Linked DNA regions of Homo sapiens: regions 1 and 3 are each linked to region 2. Evidence: fine-mapped expression QTL. A gene starts in region 2. Each other region holds a variant in brackets. All regions are shown on one strand. Distances are from middle to middle.

What was found. PIP is the estimated chance that this variant, and not a neighbour inherited with it, causes the effect.
Region 1: its variant is fine-mapped to the expression of LINC02883 in esophagus mucosa (GTEx, PIP 0.98).
Region 3: its variant is fine-mapped to the expression of LINC02883 in sun-exposed skin (GTEx, PIP above 0.99).

Annotation. Positions count from the first base shown.
Region 1 is chr15:84,990,918-84,995,917 of GRCh38, forward strand. The region is part of intron 1 of PDE8A (phosphodiesterase 8A); the gene reads left to right. Among named protein-coding and RNA genes, the nearest start is that of PDE8A, 12 kb to the left of the region's middle. RefSeq lists a silencer at 1,681-1,975. The variant G/A (reference allele first, on the strand shown) is at 2,511.
Region 2 is chr15:85,752,493-85,763,032 of GRCh38, forward strand. It overlaps LINC02883 (long intergenic non-protein coding RNA 2883), which reads right to left and starts at 6,233. Exons shown (of 6, transcript NR_120366.1): 1 at 6,019-6,233; 2 at 5,759-5,856; 3 at 5,392-5,497; 4 at 3,330-3,464; 5 at 3,026-3,163; 6 at 2,449-2,749. KLHL25 (kelch like family member 25) reads right to left here. Exons shown (of 3, transcript NM_022480.4): 3 at 6,834-8,519. RefSeq lists enhancers at 8,110-8,611, 9,428-10,161.
Region 3 is chr15:85,825,805-85,835,864 of GRCh38, forward strand. No RefSeq gene overlaps it. Among named protein-coding and RNA genes, the nearest start is that of MIR548AP, 5.2 kb to the left of the region's middle. The variant C/T (reference allele first, on the strand shown) is at 3,027.

The DNA of each region.
Region 1 (5,000 bases), 760 kb before region 2:
AGCCATTCTGGTGGGTGTGTAGTGGTATCTCATTGTGGTTTTGATTTGTATTTCCTTGATGGCTGATGATTTTGAGTACTTTTTCCGTGTGCTTGTTGTTCATTTACTGTATTGCTGTCTTTTTAAAGTTTTTATTTTAATACTTTTTTATTAAAAGGAAATATAAACATTATGACCTCTGGGTAGGGAAGGACTGATTAAGCAAGTTACACAAGGCATTTACATAAAGGAAATGGTTGATAAATTCAACTACGTTAAAATAAAGAACTTCTCATCAAAAGAGAGTGAAAAGGAAAGCGGCAGACTGGAAGAAGACATTTGCAATGCATAGTACCAATAAAGGATTAGTATTCAGAGAGGTCCTAAAAGTCAATAAGAAAACAACCGCCCAGTTGAAAAATTGGAAAAGGTTGGGACAGGCACAGCACTAAGAGGAAACCAAATAGCTAATAACTATATGAAAAGGTTTTCAACCTCATTGGGGAAATGCAAATTAAACCCACAATGAAATAACATTTTATACTCATCAAATTGGCAGACATTTAAAAGGTTGGCAGTATTTTGAGGAACTGCTCAACATTAAGTAGAGGTGTAAATTAGTTCAACTACTAGGGAAAAACCCATTGTCATTGCCAGGTAGAGTTGAATATGTGACCCTGTGACATAGCAGCTTCTCTTCTAGAAACTCTTATATATCTTTACTGGAAACATGTACGAGAATTTTCAGAGCAGCATTACTTTTAATTCCAAACTTTCCTGTAAAACCCAAATGTCCATTAACAACATAATGGATAAAAAAGTTATGATATGTTCAAAGAAAGGAATACTTCACAGCTGTGAAAAATGGATTATAGTTTTAGATATTAACTTTGATAAATCTCAGTGGAGAGAAAGAAGAAGCCATCAAAAAATCTGTAAGTTATGATTCTTTTTATTTAAAGATTGATAGGCTGGGAGTGGTGGCTCACACCTGTAATCCCAGCACTTTGGGAGGCCGAGGCAGGAGGATTACTTGAGGCCAGGAGTTTGAGATCAGCCTGGACAACATAGCAAGACCCCATCTCTAACAACAAAAAAAAGATTAATAGCTAAACAATATATAGTAATACACACATAGGTGTTAAAACTTACCATAAAATCAGTTCAGGCAAATAAAGTTTATTTTAAGGACTTAAATGTTTAGCATGTTAATTTGAGTGCCTAATATAGAGGCTGTAGGAGGATAACAGGCCCTGCTCTCAGGGAACAATTAGTCCTTTCTGGAAAGGTGGGGTAGGTCTCTGACCTGGAAGTGATGATGGCACCTTGGGGGATGGATTGTGGAGGCAAGAGCTTGGTCTGGATTGGTCATAAGGTATAGAAAGAGGAAAGGAGGGAGAGGTTTGACCTGGGCTTAAAAGACTGGGAGGATGTGGATAAGTGGAAAATATATCTCTGGATAAGGGGAAGGAAGGGTACGGGGGTTGGGTGCATGTTCCAATTATGAGGAGGCTGACCAGAGATAGGACGGGAGGTCTAAAAGCCAGGTTGAGGAGTTTGAAGTCCATCCTATAAACCTCAGAGAACTCCCAAAGGCATTTCATTTTCAGCGGGGTAGTCAAAGGATAAACATGTTTCATGAAGATTAGGTTTCAGGCAAAAATTGCAGTAGGTGGGGTGAGGGACAGCTAGAGGTGGGGCACTATGCAGGACCTATTGCAGTGGTTCAGGCACAAGGTATGACCAGGTATGACTAACTTAGTGCAGTAGTTTGGGAGAGGAGGGAATGAGAGAAGGAAAAACTGACTAGTGACAAATTGGACTTGGTGAGTGAAAGGGCGGAGAGTGGAGGGTGACTCAGAGGTTGGGGTTTACCAGCTTAGAAGGACTGTGATAACATGCCACAATTTGTACAGTGCTTTATGGTTTACCAAATGCTATTTTTGTACCTCATCTCATTTGATGTTCCCCAAACCATGGGGAGGTGGAAAGGAGGGATTTTATTTTCCCTGTTTAAGGCCTAAAGAAGCAGAAATTCAGAGATTGAATGACTTGTTCAAGTTTGTGGTGACCACTTACAGAAACAGGTTCACTGTAATAGCATAAGGGAGAAGTCACAGGAAAGCGAATTTAGGGAGTTTTTAAAAAACCTTTCTTGTCTTTTGGTTCTGAGTTCATCTTATAAAAATAAACTTTTACTTTTCCTGATTGTAAAAGTCATATTCATTGTAGAAAACTTGAAACATATAGAAAAGAACAAGGATCGGCTGGGCGTGGTGGCTCATGCCTGTAATCCCAGCACTTTGGGAGGCCAAGGCGGGCGGATCACAAGGTCAGGAGATCAAGACCATCCTGGCTAACACGGTGAAACCCCGTCTCTTCTAAAAATACAAAAAATTAGCCGGGTGTGGTGGCAGGTGCCTGTAGTCCCAGCTACTTGGGAGGCTGAGGCAGGAGAATGGCATGAACCCAGGAGGCAGAGTTTGTAGTGAGCCGAAATCGCGCCACTGCAGTCCAGCCTGGGCGACAGA[G/A]CGAGACTCCATCTCAAAAAAAAAAAAAAAAAAAAAAAGAACAAGGATCACTTAAATTGTACAATCACTTAAATTGCACAGTCAGGAGATAATGTCTCTTAAAATGGTGGTGTGTTTCCTTCCATCCATGTAGATTGCTTTAAATAACTATAATTAAAAACTTTTTTGGGCTGGGCGTAGTGGCTCATGCCTGTAAATCCCAGCACTTTTGGGAGGACAAGATGGGAGAATCACGTGAGGCCAGGAGTTTGAGAACAGCTTGGGAAACATAGTAAGACCCCCATTCTCTATAAAAAAAAATAATAATAAATAAATTAGCTGGGCATGGTGGTGCACACCTGTAATCCCAGCTACTTAGACTGAGGTGGGAGGATTGCTTGAGGCTGGGAGTTTGAGGTTGCAGTGAGCTATGATTGTGCCACTGCACTCCAACCTGGGTGACAGAGTGAGACCCTGTCTCTTAAAAAGCAAAAAACAAAAATATTTTTTAAGCAGTTTTGTTTTTTAGTTCTAGGAAACATTTAACTATTATTTATTTAAATGTTGTCCCCTTAAGTTTTCTCATTTTCTCTTCTGCAGCTCCCTCCAAAAGATAGATTGAGACGCATCTTGATCTGTCCTCCGTGTCTCTTCACTTTTCTTTTACTTCCCCTCTCTGTGCTATCTTCTGGGAGGATTTTTTAGCTCAATATTTTAAGTCACGAATTCATTCCTCAAGGTCTACTCAGCTCTTTAGCCCACTGAGTTTTTAAATTTGAGTTTTTGTCTTCAGTCTATGGTTTGCTCTTTTTTCTTAATTGCTTATTCATGTTTTATGGTTGCAGCATACTTCCTTATCTCTTTGAGGATATTAATTACACTCACTTTAAAGTCCTATTCTGATTGCTGTATTAAAAACACTTTTTATTGAGTTATAAATGTAATCAGCCAAGGTGTACAAAATCCCTAAGTGTACAGCTTGATGAATTTTCCTCATGCTCCCATGTAATCACCAGCCAAATCAAGACAGAACATTTCCAGCATTCCAGAAGGCTGCCTTGTGGCTGTTTACTGTTTTTTAGTATTTTTAACATTTTATGAAAAATCTCAAAATACAGCAATCTTGAAGGATTTTTCACAGGGTACCCCTGTGTACCCAATGCCTGTATTTTACATTAGCATTTTACTGTACTTGCTTTATCACATATATCCATGTATCCATTCTTCTACCTATCATACTCCTTTTTCTTTGATATATTTTAAAGTAATTGCAAGTGAGGACGGGAGCGGTGGCTCACGCCTGTAATCCCAGCACTTTGGGAGGCTGAGGCAGGTGGATCACCTGAGGTCAGGAGTTCAAGACCTGACCAACATGGTGAAACCCTGTCTCTACTAAAAATACAAAAAATTAGCTGGGCATGGTGGCAGGTGCCTATAATCCTAGCTACTAGAGGCTGAGGCAGGAGAATCGCTTGAACCCAGGAGGCAGAGGCTGCAGTGAGCTGAGATCACACCATTGCACTCCAGCCTGGGCAACAAGGGCGAAACTCTGTCTCAAAAAAAAAAAAGAGAGAAAAAGCAATTGTAAATGTTAGTATACTATACTTCCCCTTAAATATTTCAGCATGAATTTGATATTTGCTTAGGTTTTTTCCTTTTGAAGCAACATTTACACACAGTGAAATGCACAAATATTTAGTGTATATTTGCTGAGTTTTGACAAACGCATACATATATCTGCGTAATCCAAACCTCTATGAAGTTATAGAACATTATTTTCATTCCAGAAAGTTTCATTATGCTCCTTATTGGACAATCTCTTCTTGCAACCACCCTTCTGATTTTTTTCTTACCACAGATTAGTTTTGCCTGTTCTAATTTTAATATAAGTGGAGTTACACAGTATGTACCTTTTTTTTTTTTTCTGAGGCAGGGTCTCCCTCTGTTGCCTAGACTGGAGTGCAGTGCTGTGATCATAGTTAACTGCAGCCTTGACTTCCCTGGCTCAACTGATCCTCCTCCCACCTCAACCTCCTGGGTAGCTGGGACTACAGGTACGCACCACCACTCCTGGCTAATTAAAAAAATTTTTTTTGTAGAGACAGGGTCTCATTATATTGCTCAGGCTGGTCTCAAACTCCTGGGCTCAAGCAGTCCTCCTGCCTCAGCTTCCCAAAGTGTTGGGATTACAGGTGTGAGCTACCACGCCCAGTGTATGTACTTTTATATAAGACTTCTTTCCCTAAGCGTTATGTTTTTGGGATTCATCTATGTTTCATGTCTCAGTAGTTCATAATATTACACGATTAACTTTTAAAAGCTCACGATAAATATTGTTAAATTGCCCTCCAGGAAAATGTGATGAAATTTTGTAATTAAAAAATCCCTGAGTGGCTGGGATTATAGGCATGCACTACTTTACCCTGCCTTGTGGTCAGATTTTTATTTCATAAGGAGCATGTGAGAGTGCTTTGTGGTGCATTCATCAATCTGACTGTGAGAGGTGGTATT
Region 2 (10,540 bases):
GACAGCATCTCCAGCTAGTTCACAGGTGGCCGCCCCTAGGCCACGGGCTTTCCCTGGGGATGAGGGACCTTCAAATGGAAAATGGCCACTTTCATAGGACTGTTTCAGGTTACAGGGTCACCCCTTCCTGTCCCTACCTTAGACTCCCAACCCCATCGCTGCACCTGGCCTGGCCTCCTCTGGAAGGAAGCTCAGATTTGGAGCCTCTGCCAGGGCAGGGAGCCTGTTGGAACCAGCCCAGGGCCAGCCGGCTCATTCCTGGAATTCCTACCTCCTCTCACTGCCCTGGGTTGGCACCAGGTGCTGAGTGGGCCTCAGGCCAACTGTGGGCATGGGCTCGATGCCGCTGCTTCCTCCTCCACATCAAGGCATCAGCCGTATCTCACCCCAAAAGGCAGAGAGGAAATCCAGCTAAGTCCCACGCCCAAGCTCTGTGCTGGCTTCTGGAGGGAAGACACAGCCACTGATCGGCACTTTTGGTTCATGTGTCCTCCTACAACAAATGCGAACAACCATATACCCTTCACATGGCTTATGTCTAGCTCTCAAACGGTATCACAAGTGTAACTGCTACAAAGTATATAATCTGGGGCATTATTTTCATGCTTCAAATATATTTAGGGCTAAAGCCTTAAGTTGTTCAACTTACAGAAAATACCCACCATGTGACCTCATTAGCAAAGCCAGTACTTCTTGGCAAACTGATTGGCCAATTCAGAATTCAATTTCCATTAAAAAAGTTTGATTGCTTTTAAATTTAAATTAAAATGTTATTTAGTTGACAACTAAAAATTTTTAGTGACAACTATCTCACTTCTGAATTATGACTTAATAATGGGGAGGGAGGGAGGTAAGATGAATGAGTAGATGGGATGGATGGATGGATGGATGGACAAGTGGATGGGTGGATGGGTGGATGAATGAATGGTGGGTAGGTTAATGAGTGGGTGCATGGGCAGGTGGATGGGTGAGTGGATGGGTGGGTAGATGGGTGGATGCATGGGTGGATGGACAGGCAGGTGAGCAGATGGACACACAAAGATATGGAATCTTGTCATGTGCTTGTCAATTGAATTCCAAAAGGCACTGCCCTGTTTAACAACCCTATGCTTTGCAATCCACCTTTCCCTCATGCTGCCCAACCTTAACACGTCCATTTGGTGCCCCAGATGTTTTTACACCCTGAGCAGTGCACCATAATGAGTTTCAGGAGGGGCGAGAGATAACTTTCTTTTGTGAAATGAAAGAAGGGTGATTGAGGAAGCAAGGGGGGAACAGGCATGGGCAGAGGCACGGTTCTGGGAAAGCGCATCCCCAGATCCCAGAGGAGTTCCTCAGGACTTGCCCAGCCTGGGGCCCCATCACAAAGCTCCTCTCTGTGGTGGAAGCCCTGTGTGCCAGACTACTTCCCCCCAAGGAAGGTGGCCCTGGTGTCTTCCTGCTCTTTCTCCATCACCACAAGCATTTGAAGCCCTGGCTTTTACCTGGGAAGCGAGAGAAACATCTCCTCACCCACTAGCCCTGACTCCAGCTCAGACAAGCCTGGACAAACGCAGCTCATGCCCAGTGACATTCTAGGTCGCCGGGGGAAGATCTGCTAAGCCATGGCCTGACCCTCCGGGCTCAGCATGCACTGAGCAAAGCACCCGACCAGAACACTCTTCTTTCAGTCATCACACTGAGGCTTGGACCTGGGGGTGACTGTCCCCACCAACAACACAGGAAATCAATCTTCCTGGAGGTGATCAGCCTCCTGAAGAGAAAAGTCTGAAAATCAGGAAGTCACAAAGTTTTTTAAGACTCTGCACGCTTTCCAAGCAGAAGTTAAGGTCCTTTGAACCCTGTGATTGCAGTAACCATTTCTCTGGGGTGGCTCATACAATTCCAAGCCATGGAAGGAGGACAAAGCACTTGTGCCAACAGGAGGGACGACCCGCCTCTGTGAGGAACCTCCTGGTGGGCTCTGGGCTTCCTGGCAGCCACAGCTAAAAGGGAAACTTTTTGTTGTTGTTTATTGTTTTGAGACAGAGTCAAACTCTGTCACCCTGGCTGGAGGGGCAGTGGTGCAATCTCGGCTTACTACAACCTCTGCCTCCAGGGTTCAAGCGATTCTCCTGCCTCAGCCTCCTGAGTAGCTGGGAATACAAGCGCCTGCCACCACGGGGGTTTCACCATGTTGGCCAGGCTGGTCTCGAACTCCTGACCTCCAGTGATCCACTTGCTTTAGCCTCCCAAACTGCTGGGATTACAGGTATGAGCCACCGTGCCCGGCCAGAAACATACATTTTTACTGAAATTGCCTTCAACTCCCCAGAAAGCTGGAATACTTTCTTTCTAGTTAATTTTCACACACACACACTCTCTCTCTTAAGTTGGAAACGTATATGGGGCAAAGGAAATGGACATCATTGACAGAAATCTAGTAGCCTCTTTACCCGATTTAGTTCAATCCTTACAACAGGCAATATGATCTGTTTTTTTCTTTGTTATCAATGAGGAAATGAAGTTACAGGAGCAGAGGGACCTTCCCAAGGAGGGCCACCAAGTAGAAGAAAAGCTGCTGTTTGCACCCAGCTGGCTTGACTGCAGTGTGGCCCCTCACGCTGCACAGCACAAACTGAGGACCCACGTCCTGAGGCTCAGCTGAGGGAGCCAAGCACATGGGCTGCAAAGATCTGGCCTTGATCCCGGAGCAGAGCTCACACTACTGCTGGGAGGAGGAGACAGGCATGGCAGGGACCTCGCAGGCCTACAGGAAAGGCAGCCACAGCTGGCAACACCAGCTTGGAGGGCAGACTGGGAGCTGAAACCCCGCCCCCCCACACCCCGGCCACCTCTCTCAGGCAAATGTCACAGCTGCATTTAACAGTGCTGGCTTTTCGGTATGGCCTCAACTCCCATTTTAAAAATCTCACTATTTTCCATGGGAAGTGGGGAGATGGAGAGAGGGAGAGACAGGACCTGCTCCTCGACAGTCTTGGATGAAGCCCTAGTTAGGGTTGTACAGATGAGAGACACAGAGTACCTCAACGTTCACTCTGCAGAGTGGACAGAAGCGGGGCCAGCTTCGAAAGCGTTGAGGAAGCTCACAGGAGCCAATGTGAAGAAAGTGCGGCCATGGAGGAGTCATCCGTGGCACTCGCTCTCAGAGCCTGCATTTATCCTGCATGCACGTGTCAGGATGAGACTGTGCCATCCTGTTCCCTCTGCGGTCCCGACGCTGGTAGAGCCACCACAGGGTGGGCTTGGCAGGATGTGTCTCTTGCTCCCATCCTCCCTGGTTCCCCACCATCCCTGCAAGCTGAGTGGAGAAGCTGTGATGAGTCTACCTGGAAATGGCTTTGGAGCCCTGGGTCCTGGCATGGAGCTGGTGCCCATCAGTAGAATTACTTAATCTATCGTGCAACCCAGGAGTGTCTGGAAGCTTCTCTGCGTACCAGAGCAACGCTGCTCATCTCCTTTACCTGCAGAAAGGACAGGAAAGGAGTCCAGCCCTACTAAATTCAACTCAAAAAAGCCACTGCTCCCCTACTGCAAGCCCTCAGGGGCCCGAGCGCCAGGTGCCAAACCCAGGCCAACCCCAGGGCCAGAGCAAGGCCCCTCAGGTTCAGGGGGCCTGGGCAGCTGGGGCCAGACACACAGAAACTGCCAGAGCTTCTGCTGCCATGCTGAGCATGTTTCCTCAGCTTTAAAATGGTGACCTCAACAGTGACTGGGGCTAGGCAAGGTGGCTCTCACCTGTAATCCCAGCACTTTGGGAGGCCGAGGTGGGCGGATCACTTGATCACTAACCTCAGTCAGAGGTTAGTGAAAACAAAGGTGTCATTCTTCTCCCACCCAAGTGCATGGACCCCCTGAATTTGATCCCAAATCCCAAGTTAAGAAGCCTCCGGCCTATTCTAGGCTTTTCCTTGACCTTTAATGAGGCAGAGCCACATCCCAAAGCCCAACAAGGCAAGGGAAGATGCAGGACAATACTGTGCCCGTTCTGGGAAATTCACCCAAATCACCCTGGCTCCCTGGGCAGGGCCTGAACCTCTGCAGGTGCCATGGGCGGGCCAAGCTGCAGGTCAGGTAGGGTTGGGCCTGAGGGAAGAAGAGCAGCTGGGGGGCCGATCACCTTCATGGCCTCTTCAAGTTGGAAGAGACCATTCCCACCTCCTGAAGGAGAGAGGCCGGGCAGATCCATCGGGGCTGGGCCTGGGGCCGGGGCTGGGACATGATGGACGGGGCATGCAAGTTTCTTGCTCTGCGAAATATCCCCCCAGTGATGATCCAGAAGAACCAAGGCTCTTTCCAAGCTGTGCTCATTAGACAACTGCTTCTGAAGAAGTTGCTTCTTTCCCCACTATGATTCTACAGCCTTCGGTGTTGAGCAAGGGATGGTTGCCACACACCCTTGGGGTGGATGACTCTGGGCTCATTCTTGTCAATTCCTGACCAAAGAAATGTCCTTTGAAGGCAGGGAGACCTGGCTGAGCAGCCAGGTGGAGGAGGCAGTTGGCTACCCTCTCCTTGCCCTTGGCAACTTGACAGTCCCCCCAGGCAGGCTCTCAGGATGCCAAAGCCTCCAAGATGGCCCGTTTTCTTTCCTGCATCAGGCACAACCCAGGAAAGCTCCACTGGCCATCTTGGGACCGAGGTTTCCAGGGAGACCTTGCCCCATCACTGATGGGGAAGGCGCCTTCTCCCTTCCCCAAGCCCCATCCCAGACTCAGTCTGACCCCTGGGAGGCCAAGGAACATGGAGCTAGGCCTGCTGGGCAATGACTGGAAGCAACACTGCTCCCAGCCCCCAGCCCCCACAATGTAGCATATGGCTTGGTTTCAAATCCCAGTTCCACTGCTGTAATGTGGCGGCCATTCTCCCCCTGTAAAGGGCTATCTGGGCATTGGTCCTGGTGTTTAGTGCTTTATAGAATTTGACCTCAACTTTTAACCCTACTATCATTAAGTCTGTATCAGAGAATCAAGTGGTTTAACCAAGCTTGCACATACATGAGAGCCACACGTGAGAGCTTGAACCCAAACTCAGGTGGGCCTAGCTCCAAATCCACATTCTGTCAGTTGCAACCGTGTTTTTTCCTCCTCCTCCTCCTCCTCTTTCCAGCATGAGACATTGGGCAAGTTACTGTGACCTGTGGACCCATTTCTTCATCAGCAAGAAGAGGACAAGAATGTCTACCTCCGGGGGTCACTGTGAGGGTTAAAGGAGGTAGTTATGCAAAGCACTGGCCAGTGGGCTTGACAACTGCTTGACAAGAAGGGTTTGACAAGAGCCAGGATCTTGGCAGATGACGGCTCTGCATGCTCCCAGAGAAGCGGGAGGCAGGGCGGTGTGCCCAGGTTCCTTCCAACCCCTGACCCAGCATGTAGAGGAAGAGGCTGCTACCTGTCTAATATCTACGCTCCCTTTACTTGGCGTTGGAGTCCTGGAGTTTCCTCGGGGCACTTTCCAGTCCCGCTCGCAGTCAGGCGTGGATGTGACTGAGTTCTAGCTGTTGGGAAAATGGAGAAGTTATGGTGCAACTTCTGGGACATGCCCTTAAAACAGGCTTGCCCATCACTTTCTCTCCTCCCCTTTCCACTGGCTGGAATGCAGATGGGATGGCCGGGGCTGCGAAGGCCAGGGTGGACCAGGAAACCGCTGCCTTGCATGGAAGACGGCAGGGCAGGGAGAGAGGGGGTGGGAGTTGGAGAGAGAGGGAGAGAGGGGGAGAGAGTTGGAGCCCTGTGGGCCACAGCTGGCTCACACTCACCCTGTGACTGTGTGACAGGGAACTTCACCTCTGCTGCTGTCTGGACTCTAGCTGGAGCCAACTCCTGGCTTTGGATGCCCAGAGTGAAGCGCTCAGGCCTGTGTGGAAGTGGTAGCGTTCACCTGTGGTCCCCACCACTGCTACAGGAGCAGACAGTGCGAGGCAGAGTCCCAGGATGCCCCTCCCAGGGCTGCACCTCTGGGCAGGGGGAGGGACGAGGCCCTCTGTGCTCTTGGCTCTTCTACACGCACCATACTCACCTCTGAGACACACCCGCTCAAGATCATTCCATTTTCTAAGGAATCTGGCGTCATGCCCCTACGCCAGCATCAGAAGCACTTCTTACACTGTGAAGGCGCTATTTGGATTTTGTGGGCCAGCACACCACTGAGCACCACGGAAGCCACTGCTGAGAGCCACCGTGCTGGGGCACCTCCGGGTTCCTGTTCACAGCAGAGCCACCCTGCACGCAGGCTGCGCCACGGCATGACCTTCTCGGGCTGCCCGCTGTCTGAGGGGCGCCTGAAGGTGAGATCACAAAACACAGAACACGATGTTTACCCGTGAGCATACGCTTGAGCTCATGAGGTTCATGGTGACTATGAAAACGCACAAGGAGGGCAGGTAGCCCAGGGCCCACGGTGCAACCAGTGGGCGCAACGGTGCCGTGAGCTGGCGCTGCGGCCGTGAAGCTGCCTCCTGGAGCCATTTCGCCCCTCTGAATGGCGCTCGGGTTATTTTCAGACAAAGGAGCATCAACTGGAGGTTCTGCCTTTTCGAATGGATGGAATTACATTCCCAACTTCTATTTACCAGAGTTTCCAGGAGAGAATCACTCTCAGGAGGGGCAGACAGGATCAGGACTCTCCACGGAATCAACTTCATGGCTTCTAAAGCAACTTCAGGAGGCACAGGAATGGGGAGACCTCTCATCTGGGTGGGTTCCCCCTTCCCAGCTCATGAGAGGGGCAGATGCCAGCAGGCAGGCCTTGAGCCTTGGCTGGTGGGACAAGACCAAAGTCAGCCACCAGCAATGTCTCCAAGACTGATCCCAGCACACAAGGCAGGCAAAGAATTTTCTCAACTCTTTTTATTAAGTTAGAAAACTGATAAAAGCAACACAACTTTTGGGGAAAGCACCATGGCACGTCCTTTGTGCTATGTGATAAGTGTGCTTTATCTCAATGAAGCAACCCCACGGGTCCAGGCACCCTCCCTGCAGTCCCCGCGGCCAGGCTCCTGAGTGTGCCAGCAGAGCCGTCCCCTGGGACCACAGCCAAGTGCCTTCGGGCAGCTGGCCTGACACAGGCGGGGTCTGCTGGGTCTACAGGGTCCAAGGAGCCCCATGCAGCCAGTGCCCCATGGCGGGCGTGTCAGTGGGCAAACCCTGCCCAAAGGTCCCACCCCCAAGAGGCCTCCAGGACCCGCACCAAGGCATGGGGGACACTCGTGGCTGCTTAAGTAACTGGTATGTGCACAGCCCCCTCCGCGGCCCTAATCTTGAGCCAGCCAAGCAGTGTTCACACTGCAGGTGCCTGGGAAGCCCCAAGTTTGGACACCCTGCCCAGTCCCTGTCAGGGCACCAACACCCCTCCCTCTCAAATGGTGGCTTGGGAGTGAGCGAGAGGCATTAGGATGGTCACTGACAGGCGCCAACCTCTCCATAGCCCAGGTGTCAGGGAGGTGCTGGTGAGGGACCCCAGTGACTCAGGAGGTGACAGCAATGAACAAATGTTCAGCAGTTCTCTCGGGGCCATTCTTATCTTGGAGCTCAGGGAGCAAATGGGGGCCAAAACGCAAGAGGATGGTGAGGGTCCCGTCACTGTCCTCCACACTGAGATGGATGCGGCCCTGGTGGGATCTGCAGGGGACACCCTGGGGTCCCTCTGCTGTCTCCAGCTCACAGCTGCTCCTGGTCTTGGAGGGCAGCGTGGTCTCCTGGGGAGAAGCCCCCAGTGCTGTTGGCAGGTGTGTGCCATGGGGGTCACTGCTGCCTCTCAGGGTGGGCTCTGAGGAGGGGAGGGGAGGGGTGACCCCCAGGGCACTCGGAGCCTTGAGTCTGCTGCAGGCCCAGCTCCACTGAGTGGCCACGAGCAACTGTGTCCCCACCGGGCCACAGCACTGAGCAAGGCCCTGAGTAGGTGGGCTGGGACTTACAGCTTTGTGGAAGGGGCCCACAAACCTTGGAGGTCTGGGTGTCCTTTGCTAATAAGGCCTCATGGATGTCACTGAGGCCCCCCTGCAGTTTCTGCACCTTAAAAAATCTGTCTTGGTCACCTTTCTGGTCTCAACCCCTGGGAACCTAGTTTCCCAGGCCCAGGACACCATCTATAGATGGCAGTAGAGCCCCAGCAGGGCAGGCCAGGAGGGAAAGGATGTGTGGCAGTGCCGCAGCCCCAAAGCCCACCCGGGGCGCCTCCCTGCCCCTGCCTGCCCGGCCCCAGTCCAGGACCTGCCAAACAGGTGATCTCAAGGCTCTGCAAGTGTCCTTCTCCCCGACGCCAGGGTCAGTCCTGGTGGCAGTCCATGCCCCTCTGGGAGGTATGTCTTCCCACAAACCACTGCAAAGCTGAAGAGGCCCCCAGGGGCACGGATGCAAGAGATGCTTCTCTTCTCTTGCCTAAAGCTCAGAACAGCCCAAGGCTGCTGCTCCCCAGAGCTGGCAGGGCCCCTTCCACCTCTCGGAGTGCTGGCCCAGGGCCGGCTTAGCTCCCGCTGTGGCAGACAAGCAAGGCCACGCTGTGACACTGAAGGCCGCGGTCTGTGGAGGGAGGAGAGGAAGAGAAAATCAATCAGTGGCCACATTGTTCTGTTCTGACCTGATCTGGAACAAAATGACAATGACACAGCTGCCCATGAGGCTCGGGCGTGAGAACGCCAGATCCACCATTCACCGGCAGCGCAGTCTGGTGATTCAGGCACCCCAGGCCTGCTTTCCCCACTGAGTGGCAGGTGACTCAGGTGTCAACTTGATTGGATTCGGGGATACCCAGACGCCCGGGGACACATTACGTATTCTCAGTGCTGGAAGGGAAACCCAGGCGGCTTGGTACTTGATTCGAATGGCCAGGCCGCCCCAGTGAGTCTGTGCTTCCAGAGGTGACCGGCGTGAGAGCCGTGGTTGCAGGTGAGCACCATCAGATGGGCAGGGGCCCTGGTGGAATAAAAAGCTAAGGAAATGGGGACTCAGGTTTCTTTCTTCTGGAGCTAGGTTGCTCTTTTCCTGCCATCGGGCATCAGAGCTCCAGGTTCTCTGGCCTCTGGGACTTGCTGCCCACCACCCCACCCCCACCCCAGGCTCTTGGCTCTTTGTCCTTGGGCTGAGGTCTGTCCCCAGCTCTCCTGGTTCTGCAGCTTGCAGCCTATCATGGGACTTCTCAGCCTCTATCACCAAGTGAGCCAATTCCCCTAATAGAGTAAGTTCCCTCTCACATACCACTCCGAGGCCCTGAAAGGAAAAGGTGAGCCCTCTCGCACAGGCGGGCACAGGCAGGCGGAGCACTCTAGCAACCCTGAGTGTTCATGCACTCCATAAGGCAAGGAGCCTCAGCAAAGCAGTGATTAATGGTGACGCTGTCCGCGGTTTTTGGCTTTGGTTGTATTTAAGCTGTACGTGTTAGTTTTAGTTGTGTAAGAACAAGAACATAAGGGGCTTTCTAGTTGTATGCTTGTGTGTATTAAGTAACCTTAGTTACATTTCAATTAAACACTGAAGCCAGCACTGAGGCTCCACGGCTGTCCCCTTTAAGTGGGGTACACCTCTCCATCCCACACAGTGCTGGGCCGTCTGTTCTCTGAAGGCTGCTTTGCAGGAATTCTGCCCTCCCCACGTGCTCAAGTTGTTTCCAGATACAGAGGCTGGGTTCGGCGACTGAGAAGGCCCCCAAATCCCTTCAAGCTCCTCACAAGTGAGAAGCTGGGGTCACAGGGGCCCTAACCATCCTGAGATGCTCTAAGACTGCAAACCCGAACCTCTGGGGCCTGGCTGCCCGGTCTTGGCCCCATCCCAGCACGCCACATGCTGACATGTGGTCCCTTCAGGGCAAGGCCTCACTGCTACCTGGAACTAAACAGCCACGCTACCTACCTGGGGGTGTCCCCCAAGGCACCCTGAGTTGCTGAAAGGAATACAGATGACAGCTAGAGGCACAGGGGTTGGGGAGCCTCGGGGCCAGGCTCCTGTGTTCCCTCTCAGGCTGGGTCCCTTTGTTCCCTCTCAGGCTGGGTCCCTTTAATTTTTGGCAGGTGCTCCCTGGGGCCTGGCCTCAACTGTGAAATGGGCTAATCCTCCAGCTTGCAGAGTGGACAAGGGTCAGCGGCCGCCCTGCACTTCCTGTGTGCAGCAGGTCTTGGCCAACGTGCATCCTGTGGGTTGTTGGTGTAGGGCCTGCCCCACTAGGCTCAGCCTGCCCCATCAAGGGTGGGATGCTGCTCTATCCCCCAGCCTGGCACAGGAACGAATGACTGCTGATGCCTGGACGGACGGACTCCGTCCTGGGCACTTGCTTAGCCAGGCCCAACCCTCAAGGCTGGCAGAAATCCTCAGGCCTGTGCTCTGGGATTTCCCATCTGTAGCAACTTCTTTAAGACAGGAGAGAATGTACTGTACTGTCCCTCCTGCAGCAGTGACGGAGCCCACAGTGGATTAATGAGCTCGGCCTTTCCCAGAGCCAGGACTGGAACCCTGCCCTGCACCCCAGTGGCTAGGCCCCAGCAACACCCTGAAGAGAAGACAAGCTGTCGGCAGCCGGATGCCTGCCTTGCATTCGGCAGCCCCCCCAT
Region 3 (10,060 bases), 73 kb after region 2:
TCTCCTGCCCTGCTCATGGCTGGCTAGCTACCTACTGTAACAAGAGCACAGGCTGTCAAGCAGGTTTTTGGCTTCCCAGACAGGGCCCATGGATTTTGTGAATGCAGCCACTATTTATTGATGTAATCGCTCCACCCTATAGGGCTGGAGTTGTGCTTGGCCACAGAGTGCCAGATGGCCATTAGGTACCAGCTGCTTCCACCCAAGAACACTGTCACTCACAGAATGCAGCTGCACAGATACCAAGATGGAAGCCCCAACAGTTATCATGGATGTTAAGAAATCCTACCGCCACTTCAAATCACAAGACTAGCTAACATATACTGAATGCTTATCACACATCGGGTGCTGTGCTAAGCACTTCATGTGGATTATTAGTTCCTTAAATCCTTCCGACAAGCTATCATTTGACTTTCTAGGGACTCTTCTAAGAATAAAACTATCCTTGAACTACAGCACTGTTTTAGGAATTGTGGGAGTCTTCCCTTCCAACCCAACTCCTGTGTTCTCTTGGGGAATCCTTGAAGAGCTCAATGACTACTGCCCACTAAGTGCCCTCACACTACATGCTCCTTGTCAGCTTTACAGGACATGCGGATCCTGGGAGCCTTACCTCATTCTCTGTTGAAGAGAAGATACAATATAGTTTTTTGTTTATTGCCTGTGTGATGCTAGATCAGCTTGTGCCTTAAACTTGGTATTGAAGGGGTGACCTAGACAGAAACTGCCCAAAGAGTGAAATTTATTTACTAATAAGTATGAATTGTCTGCATGCAAAGGATGCATTTTATTGGAAAAATTTATCATGTCAACATATTTTTACCATATTATCTTGGCTATATTATAACAGTATAATGGAAAGTTATTGACAGGAAGGAACCTATGTTTTCAGTAAACCATCATGGACCATAGAATAAGTCTGCCACTGAAAAGGCTGTATTTATGATTATTGTAGGCAACTTGAGAAAAACCCCTGAGGGAACTTATGGCCAGGTGCAGTGGCTCACACCTGTAATCCCAGCACTTTGGGAGGATGAGGTGGTTGATTCCTTGAGCTCAGGACAAGGCAAAACTCCATCTCTACAAAAAATAGAAAAATTAGCCGGGCGAGGTGGTGTGTACTTGTAGTCCCAGCTACTCAAGAGGCTGAAGTGGGGGGATCACCTGAGCCCAGGGAGGTCAAAGCTGCAGTGAGTCATGTTTGCGCTACTGCATTCCAGCCTGGATGACAGAGCAAGACCCTTTCTCAAAAAAAGAAGTGATCTAGATTTTTTTTTAAAACATGCTGATAGTACAGAAACGTTCCTGGGGAATAATTTGACTGCAAGAGACGTTTTCAAAAAGAACTAAGATAGTTTTGATCCTATCTCAAACCTCCCCTTTAATGATTGAGGCTTTACATCAGTTATTTACAAGAAACCTGGAATGTCAGACAATACAATTTGTAATAATGGTGCAATTACAAAATTTGTGTCTGAAGGTTTTATGAGTCGTTATCAGCACAGCCTATTACTCAGTGGTCTAAGAGAATGGCCACAAAGTTGCTGCAAGTATCTCATCCCTCAGCACACAAGAACTGCCTGTGTAGAAGTACTAATCTGTCGGCATCTCTGGACTTGCTTCAGTCATTTCTGATCAGATTTAGCTTACTGTCTCTAAGACAAACAAGAGTATATTTGGGTTATTTATTTGTATCTATTCAGCTCTTTATCAGAGTGTTTTTTTTTTTTTTTTTTTTTTTTGAGACAGAGTCTCATTTTGATACCCAGGCTGGAGTGCAGTGGTGCAATCTCGGCTCACTGCACCCTCTGCCTCCTGGGTTTGAGAGATTCTCCTGCCTCAGCCTCCCGAGTAGCTGGGATTACAGGCACCCACCACCATGCCCAGCTAATTTTTGTATTTTTAGTAGAGATGGGTTTTCACCATGTTGGCTAGGCTGGTCTAGAACTCCTGACCTCAAGTAATTTGCCCATCTCAGCCTCCCAAAGTGCTGGGATTACAGGCGTAAGCTGCCGCACCTGGCCCTATTTGGCTGCTCCTGTTAGCCCTTTTGCACGGGGCTGGATTCCCTCAATTCACTTTTCCACGCAGACAGCTGGAGTAGGGACAATCAAATTATTTACTTTATAAATTATGCCATTATTACTTCTAAGAGTACTGGTGTCCATTACATCCTTTTCAAAGACTTTCACTGATCAGCTGAGATATCTGGCTTTTTAAGATCCATATTTTTTCTTTATCTTTGCCTCACTGTTTATCGATAGATATACCTGAAAATATAAAAGATTAACATGGTCCAGGGAAGCCAGTGTTTATGGAGTAACTATTTAAAGATAACTGGAGCGGACACTTGTTACTCTAGAAATTTCCCTGTATCTTCTGTTCCCATCCATATGGCTACTTTAGGAGTTGCCATCTTGGTTCAATGCCAGTCTGCCACTGGGCACAGTTGATTGGACCAAATTTAGCTTGCAAGTCAAGCTAGGCCAATCAAAGTTATTTCATGGAGAACTGGATTTGGAAAACAGAGGGTACTGTTTTTCTTTCTGGAAGCTTGATTGACAGGTGTCAAATATGCAAGCTGTTGGCAGCTTTGTGGTTTAGGGAGTACAGGGGTTGGTCCATAGCCAGAAGAAAAAGAGAAGCCAACACAACAAAGAGGGTAGAGGCTGGAGACAGAGGGTATTTTTGTTTCCTGGGGCTGCTGTAACAAATTACCACAAACTGGGTGGCTTATAATGACAGAAAATTAGGCCGGGTGCAGTGGCTCATGCCTGTAATGCCAGCACTTTGGGAGGCCGAGGCGGGCGGATCACGAGGTCAGGAGTTCAAGACTAGCCTGATCGATATGGTGAAACCCCATCTCTACTAAAAATACAAAAATTAGGCGGGTGTGGTGATGGGCACCTGTAATCTCAGCTACTCGGGAGGCTGAGGCAGGAGAATTGCTTGAACCTGGGAGGCAGAGGTTGCAGTGAGCCAAGATTGTGCCACTGCACTCCAGCCTGGGCGACAGAGCAAGACTC[C/T]GTCTCAAAAAAAAAAAAAAAAAAAAAGAAAAAAGAAATCTATGTCACAATGTCACATACCCTTATCTAAACCAATTACCAACAAAGGGTTTGGGAACCCATGATTGGCTTGGACCTATGAGGATTCAGCCCTTGGGCTGGGGCTGTGATCAACCCCTTGTGAAACACAAAGCTGAGCACAGGAGGGCAGATGCTGTTCTGAATCGAAAGAGGAAAGGAGGGTGGGTGAGAAACGCATGTTAAGTAGGCAACCAGCAGTGTCAGTGACACATGGCCGACTTATGTTTTCAAAATCCCAAATGACTCCAGGCACTTTCCACCAGATTTTTTAGCTTACCTCTAAACAGCCATCCATGTGCTGTAGGCAAATTTTGGCAGGAAGTGCCAGAAGGTAGCATCTCGCCCCTGTTCTAATCTGCTTACTGTGCCTCTGACATCAGTAGCACAAAGGGTAAAAATCAGTGCAGTCAGCTCTCCTAATGGCTGTATGACTTTGGAAGTGGCTGTTTGGAAGGTGGTTTTAAGAGACCTGTAAAAGGACAGACATGCTTCATGGTTGTGGCTCCCAGGTAACAACTCTGAAGGACTCAACACCTGGATTCCTGGCCAGAGCCCCTCAGGTGGCCTCCATGTAGGTGCCATAGCAAAGAATCCCATTTTTTTTCATCTAGGAAAAGGGAACAAAGGTGTGGTTCCGATCAGGGTGGTTGGTTTAAGTCCACAAAAATCATCTGTTAAGCAACTACTAAAGGCAAAGATGGACCAAATTGACCTGTTCTTTGTGGGCAGTCTCCATCCAGCTGCTACAGGCTCTAAATGAGCCACCATATAGTATGGCGGCTCATACTATCGGCTCAAGATAGTTGACCTTACAGGTCACCTGTGGAAAGCCATGGAACCCTGGCAGCAGGAACTATTTCTCTTTGGGACCAGGTTCTTGGAGAGAGAGACTAGGCTCAGCTTTCCTGCAACTTGCAGGGTTGAGTCAGGGTCATCTGGCCTGAGGCAGAGGCAGTCACTTGTGGGGACGGTGGGGAGTCTGTCCTAGTCCTCTCACCCCACCCTGGAGAGTTACCACCACTGAGGAAGGAGGAAGGAGATGTTTCTGTTTGTCATCTCATGACATCATCACAGCAGCAAATGATGTGGGCATGGTTGGGAGTGGTGGCTGATGCCTGTAATCCCAGCACTTTGGGAGGCTGAGGCAGGCGGATCACTTGAGGTCAGGAGTTTGAGACCAGCCTGACCAACATGGTGAAACCCTGACTCTACTAAAAATATAAAAATTAGCTGGGCGCGGTGGTGCATCTGTAATCCCAGCTACTCAGGAGGCTGACACAGTAGAATCACTTAAACCCAGGAGGTGGAGGTTGCAGTGAGCCGAGATTGCGCCATTGCACTCCAGCCTGGGTGACAGTGAGACTCTATCTCAAAAAAAAAAAAAAAAGGATTGGACATTAGCACTCCCAAGTTACATTTAAGGAACCTGCGGTTCAGAGAGGATAAGTTGGTTTCCAGGTCACACAGCCAGTTAATGGATTCAGAGCCCATGCGAGGTCCTGATGGATTGGGACACTGGAGATAAACACATGATGGAGGACAGTAGTTCAGGGGAGACCTGGAATGCTACTTGGGAGGGGACTCTCTGAAACAAGAGATAGCTTGGGGACATAGAAGTTGCCCAGAGAGGACAGAGCAGCAGGACAGGAGGTGAACGTGCATCCTCCTATGGCCACCGGTGGAAAATCATATGTATGGGATGCCCAAGGATCAGCTCTCTCCAGGGAGGTAGAGCTGGCTAGGATGGCAGTTTGTGGGAACAGTTTCTAGGAGGCAGGAAAGCACCAGGGGCTGAGGGGAATGGGGCCAAGGGTTGCTGCTGTTACTTGTGGATGCATTACTGGGAGGGCCAGGGGGAGTCCTGGCCGAGAGGAAATCAGACTTGATCAGGGAGATAAAAGCATGGATCAGATTCAAGTAGTAGTGAGGCAAGGATGGAATAGGAAAGGAACAGCAAGCTGAAGGCCTTGGAGGGGCAAGAGCTGGGCCAGGCAAGTGGAGAAGGCTGGACCCGAGGGTGGAGGCTGCCTAGAGCCCCTTATCATGCAGGGCTGCTGGGGGGCCTGAGGATGCCGCACAAGGGAGGACCTGGCCAGCTGGCAGAGCGATGATGCCACCTGTGTGTTTCATCTGAAGAGGGTTTATGACCTGGGGGCTGTATGTGTCCTGAGGGTAGAGAGGAGGAAAGATGGAAGATGGGGGTCTAGAGGGTTAGGGTAGAGAAAAGTGAGGATGTGAGATGCTGGAGGAAAAGTCTCCTGAAGTTCATTCTGACAGCCCTAGCCCTGTCCTCTAATCTCATCTCCCTCCCATTCCCTTCCCAATCCCCCTAGCGCAGCCTTTTTTTTGGGACTGCCAGCCACCCTTAAAGGGAAGGCCCCAACCCTTCCCTCAATTGGGGACCTCAGGGAGAGCTGGCAGGGCCCTGGGGCCCAGAGGGCTGGCTTCCTTCTTGTCAGAGGCAAAACAAAGGCACCTCCAGGGCTCAATGAAAACTCAGTTTGTTTTCTGGCTGTGGCCAAGGGACACCTTTAATTGCAAAACTTAAAACCAGCCCTTGTTGGAAATTGCGACAAGGCCAGACCATATGGGAATGTTTCCCGATGGAAAGGAGCATCTGTTCTCTATAAGATATGCAAATGACGTGTAATTGCACCTTCAGAGAGCTCTGTTTTCCGTCCCCAGCACAGTGCCCACAGGCGGGGGAATCTGACCATGGTTTAAAGTCCTCAGCCCTCCACCCACAAGACAGAGGATCCACGCTGAATCCACACTGCACGCTTCCCAGATTGAGGGACCCAGACCAGCCAGCGCCCTCTGCTGACATTCTCAGTCTTGTACTCAGGGTCCAGAAGGGGTTGAATAAGGCACACACTGCATTCCTATTCTGTTCCAGGTTTTGTGCAAAGTGGGGTTGTTTCCTTTAATGTGGGAGAAAACCCCAATGAGATCTTTTGCTTTGCAGACAAGGTAACCAAGGCTCGGAGGATTTATGTAGTTGGTCCGACATGTCATCTGGCACAGGGTGGGACTGAGATTCACAGCCAGGACTGACCGCTGGAAAAGCCCCTCGCGTGTCTTCTAACATTTACTGAGTGCCTGGGTCATTTCTTTAGCAAATGTTCTCTTATTCTGTCTCCTGTCTGCGAACGCCTGCACTCTCTGTCTCTCAGTCTCTCTTTGTCCCTCCTCCCTCCTGGGAATGGCTGAATAAGGGTCTTCACAAGAAAGGATCATTCCTTCAAAATTAATGCCGCATTTGCTTAAAATGTATTAGAAATGTGTTACAGCAAAAAGCACTTACAATAGCACTGGTAAAATGAAAATGTACATTAAGAAAAATTAGGCTGGGCGTGGTGTCTCACGCCTGTAATCCCAGCACTTTGGGAGGCGGGAGGATTATGTGAGCTCAGGATTTCGACACCAGCCTGGGTAACATAGTGAAACTGTGTCTCTACAAAAAATAGAAAAATTAGCTGGGTGTGGTGGCACACACCTGTTGTCCTAGCTGCTTGGGAGGCTTAGGTGGGAGGATTGCTGGAGCCTGGGAGATCAAGGCTGCAGTGAGTTGCGATTTCATCACTGCACTACAGCCTGGGTGACAGAGTCAGACCCTTTCTCAAAAACACCCAACAAACAAAACAATCACCAAGCCATTTAGAGGAACCAGCCATTCTCTGCAGGAAATAAAGGAACTAAGAGTTACCTCATCACCACTGCCACCACCATCACCACCATCATCATCAGAATGGAGGTGATGCGGTGGGGCTTCCTGGCGCTGCTCTTCACGGCTTGTGAGGAGCTCTGTGCAGCAGCTAGGCCAGGTGAGAACACAAGTCATGGGCCCTGGAGTCAGCCCTTGTGGCAAGTGACTTCCTTCTCTGTGATCTCCTTTCCATCTGTAAAATGGGGATCATAGTTCCTACATGATGGGTTTGTTCTGAGAGTTCAGGTGCTAATGTTTTTAGAAGAGTGCCTGGCCCCTAAGAAGTGTTTAATACACACTAGCTGTTATTACTTTTCAAGATCTTGCAGGAGACCCCGCATGGTGATTTGAGAACTTCCCGGAGTCCTGGGGTGAGAAACAGTGATCGCTCTGGCTTCTTCCACCAGAGGTACCAGGGTTTTTACCTTTTGTACACATCAGGAGGCTTGAAGACATTTGAAAAACTGCCTTAGGTTATAGGGGTCATTTAATCTCCTTGGGCTCCATGAGGTCAGGGAATGTCACTTACAGCATCCTTAGTGTCCAGAGAGTTCCTGGCATGGAGGAGATGCTTGATAAATTCACGCTGAATTGAATGGTGCCTCCTTTTCCTTTTCTTTTTTTGTTTTTTTGATTTCCAGGGATGTGATTTTGGTTCACTGCAACCTCCACCTCCCATGTTCAAGTGATTCTCCTGCCTCAGCCTCCTGAGTAGCTGAGATTACAGGCACGCACTACCATATCAGGCTAATTTTTATATTTTTAGTAGAGACGGGGTTTTGCCATGTTGGCCAGGCTGGTCTCGAACTCCTGACCTCAAGTGATCCGCCCGCCTCGGCTTCCCAATGTACTGGGATTATAGGCATAAGCCACCAAGCCCGTCATCCTTTTTCTTTTCTATAAAATGTAAAAAGAATGCCCAAGTTTTGGTATGAGTGACCTTTTTAAGGGAGATGTTCTTCCAGGAAAGCACCTTGTTCACATACTCTGGGCCACCGTGCAGGGGCTCTGGAGGTGGTCTGACTCCCCCACCATTTAGTGCCAACCTCAGGGCATAGTGCCTGACCGAGATGGAGGAGAACAAGCCCTGGCGGTGTCTATGAAGCCAGAGGGAGTGGAAGACAGAACAGGAAGGGGAAGGAGGGTGGCCAGTGTCCTCATGGGGAAGGGGCAGGTGGGCGGAGAGGCTGGGAGAGCCGGTGTCTACCCAGAGAATGCCACATGGCACCTGGACCTGGTGCTCAGGGAGAAGTCCTCTGGCACCCCTGTGGGTGGGTGGGGTGTTGCCAATGGCCAAGATGGGCTTTGGCATAGCTGCTCTAAGCCTGTGGGCATTCTCCTCCCAGCTAGAAAGGAGAGGGGCTGCTCCTGCCTGTACATGCCAGGGGAAGCTGTTGGTCAGCTGCAAAATGAGGACATTCTCAAGACCGGCCTCTGCAGCGGCTGCTCCCACTTCTCCAGCTCTGGCCCACTTGCCATATGTTCTGGGAGGAAAAATCACGTCACTGAGGTTATTGTCCAGTGAACTGGTGATTCTGCTCTGGGGCCTTGTCGGAGCTGGAAGACTTTGTTTTTTGAATATCATTTCCTGGAGAAAGGTTATGGGGGAGGTGGGGGTTGTGGCAGGGTGGAGGGTTTTGCTGGATAAATAGACCTCTCCCCTTGTTTGTCCTGAGGAAGAGAGAATATTTCTGTCTTACAGATGAAACATCTGAGGCTCAGAGAGTGACTTCTCCAAGGCCACACGGCTAGGAACTTGGATTGAGTCTGTCTGGGATATTTTTTCTTTTCTTTTCTTTCTTTCTTGTTTGTTTTTGAGATGGAATCTCTCTCTGTTGCCCAGGCTGGAGTGCAGTGGCATGATCTCGGCTCACCGCGGCCTCCACCTGCAGGGCTCAAATGATTCTCATGCCTCAGCCTCCCGAGTAGCTGGGACTACAGGCGTGCACCACCATGCCCAGCTAATTTTTTGTATTTTAGTAGAGGCATGGTTTCACCATGTTGCCCAGGGTGGTCTTGAACTCCTGAGCTCAAGAGATTCGCCCGCCTTCGCCTCCCAAAGTGCTGGATTACAGGCATGAGCCACTGTGCCCGGCCAGGATATTTTTTCTGAACTCAACCTTGCTTTGCAAACTCTCAGCTCTGCACATTTGTATCCTTTCTCAGGCCCTACCTTCATGGATGAAAACCTCCCAGAGAGGGAGTTCGGAATAGCCCAACACCTACAGCCTCAGGGTTATTCTGCAGATGCCTTGAGCAGCCTCATCATGTGAGTTCCCAGCCCCAAACTTCCCCATTCCCTGGATCTCATCTGTCCATCTGGTGGTGATTGCAAAATGAAGTCACACTTACCCTTGTGCCCAAATTGCAGGTTCCGAGCCACTCATCCCCCTAGACAAGAACATTAGCCTTCAAGGGTCTTCACTCATTCATGGGAGATCTCAGAGGGAGCCTCACACACATACCCACTCTGTCAGTTGCAACCCCAGACAATGCCCACCCCTTTTTCCTTTCTGGTTCTGGTTTCCACCTGTGCACTAGTCACAGTTTTCTTGTCATTATCACCACAAAAGGGGCCACCTGAAGAATGATGTGCTGCTGACGTCTGGGCCAATGTAGCTTGTTCAGTGTTTGAAGGCCCTCACTCACTGCTAGAATCTCCAAAAGACTCTCATAAAGGCAGCTTGAGCTTCCACCTCGAAGGTCTTAAAACTTGTCCAGGCCGGGTGTGGTGGCTCATGCCTGTAATCCCAGCATTTTGGGAGGCCGAGGAAGGGAAATCACCTGAGGTCAGGGGTTGGAGACCAGCCTGGTCAACATGGTGAAACCCCATCTCTATTAAAAATACAAAAATTAGTCAGGTGTGGTGGCGCATGCCTGTAATCTCAGCTACTTAGGAGGCTGAGGCAGGAGAATCGCTTGAGCCTGGAGGTGGAGGTTGCAGTTAGTCGAGATCGCATCATTGCATTCCAGCCTGGGTGACAGAGCCAGACTCTCTCTAAAAAAAAAAAAAAAAAAAAAATCATGCATCCCTACTACATGCAAATCTGTTTAGTCATATAGTTTATACAGTTAGCACTGGATTTATATAGGGTGTACCTTAAAACCATGCACAAAGTAGAAATTACAAGGATGATACTTTTTCATAAATTATAAACATTAATGTATTATGCTCATTAAAGCCATATATAAAAAGAGAAATGTAAAATGGGGACATAAGAATAACTATAAAAATAAATTTAAGAAATAACTATATTGCACTGGATGC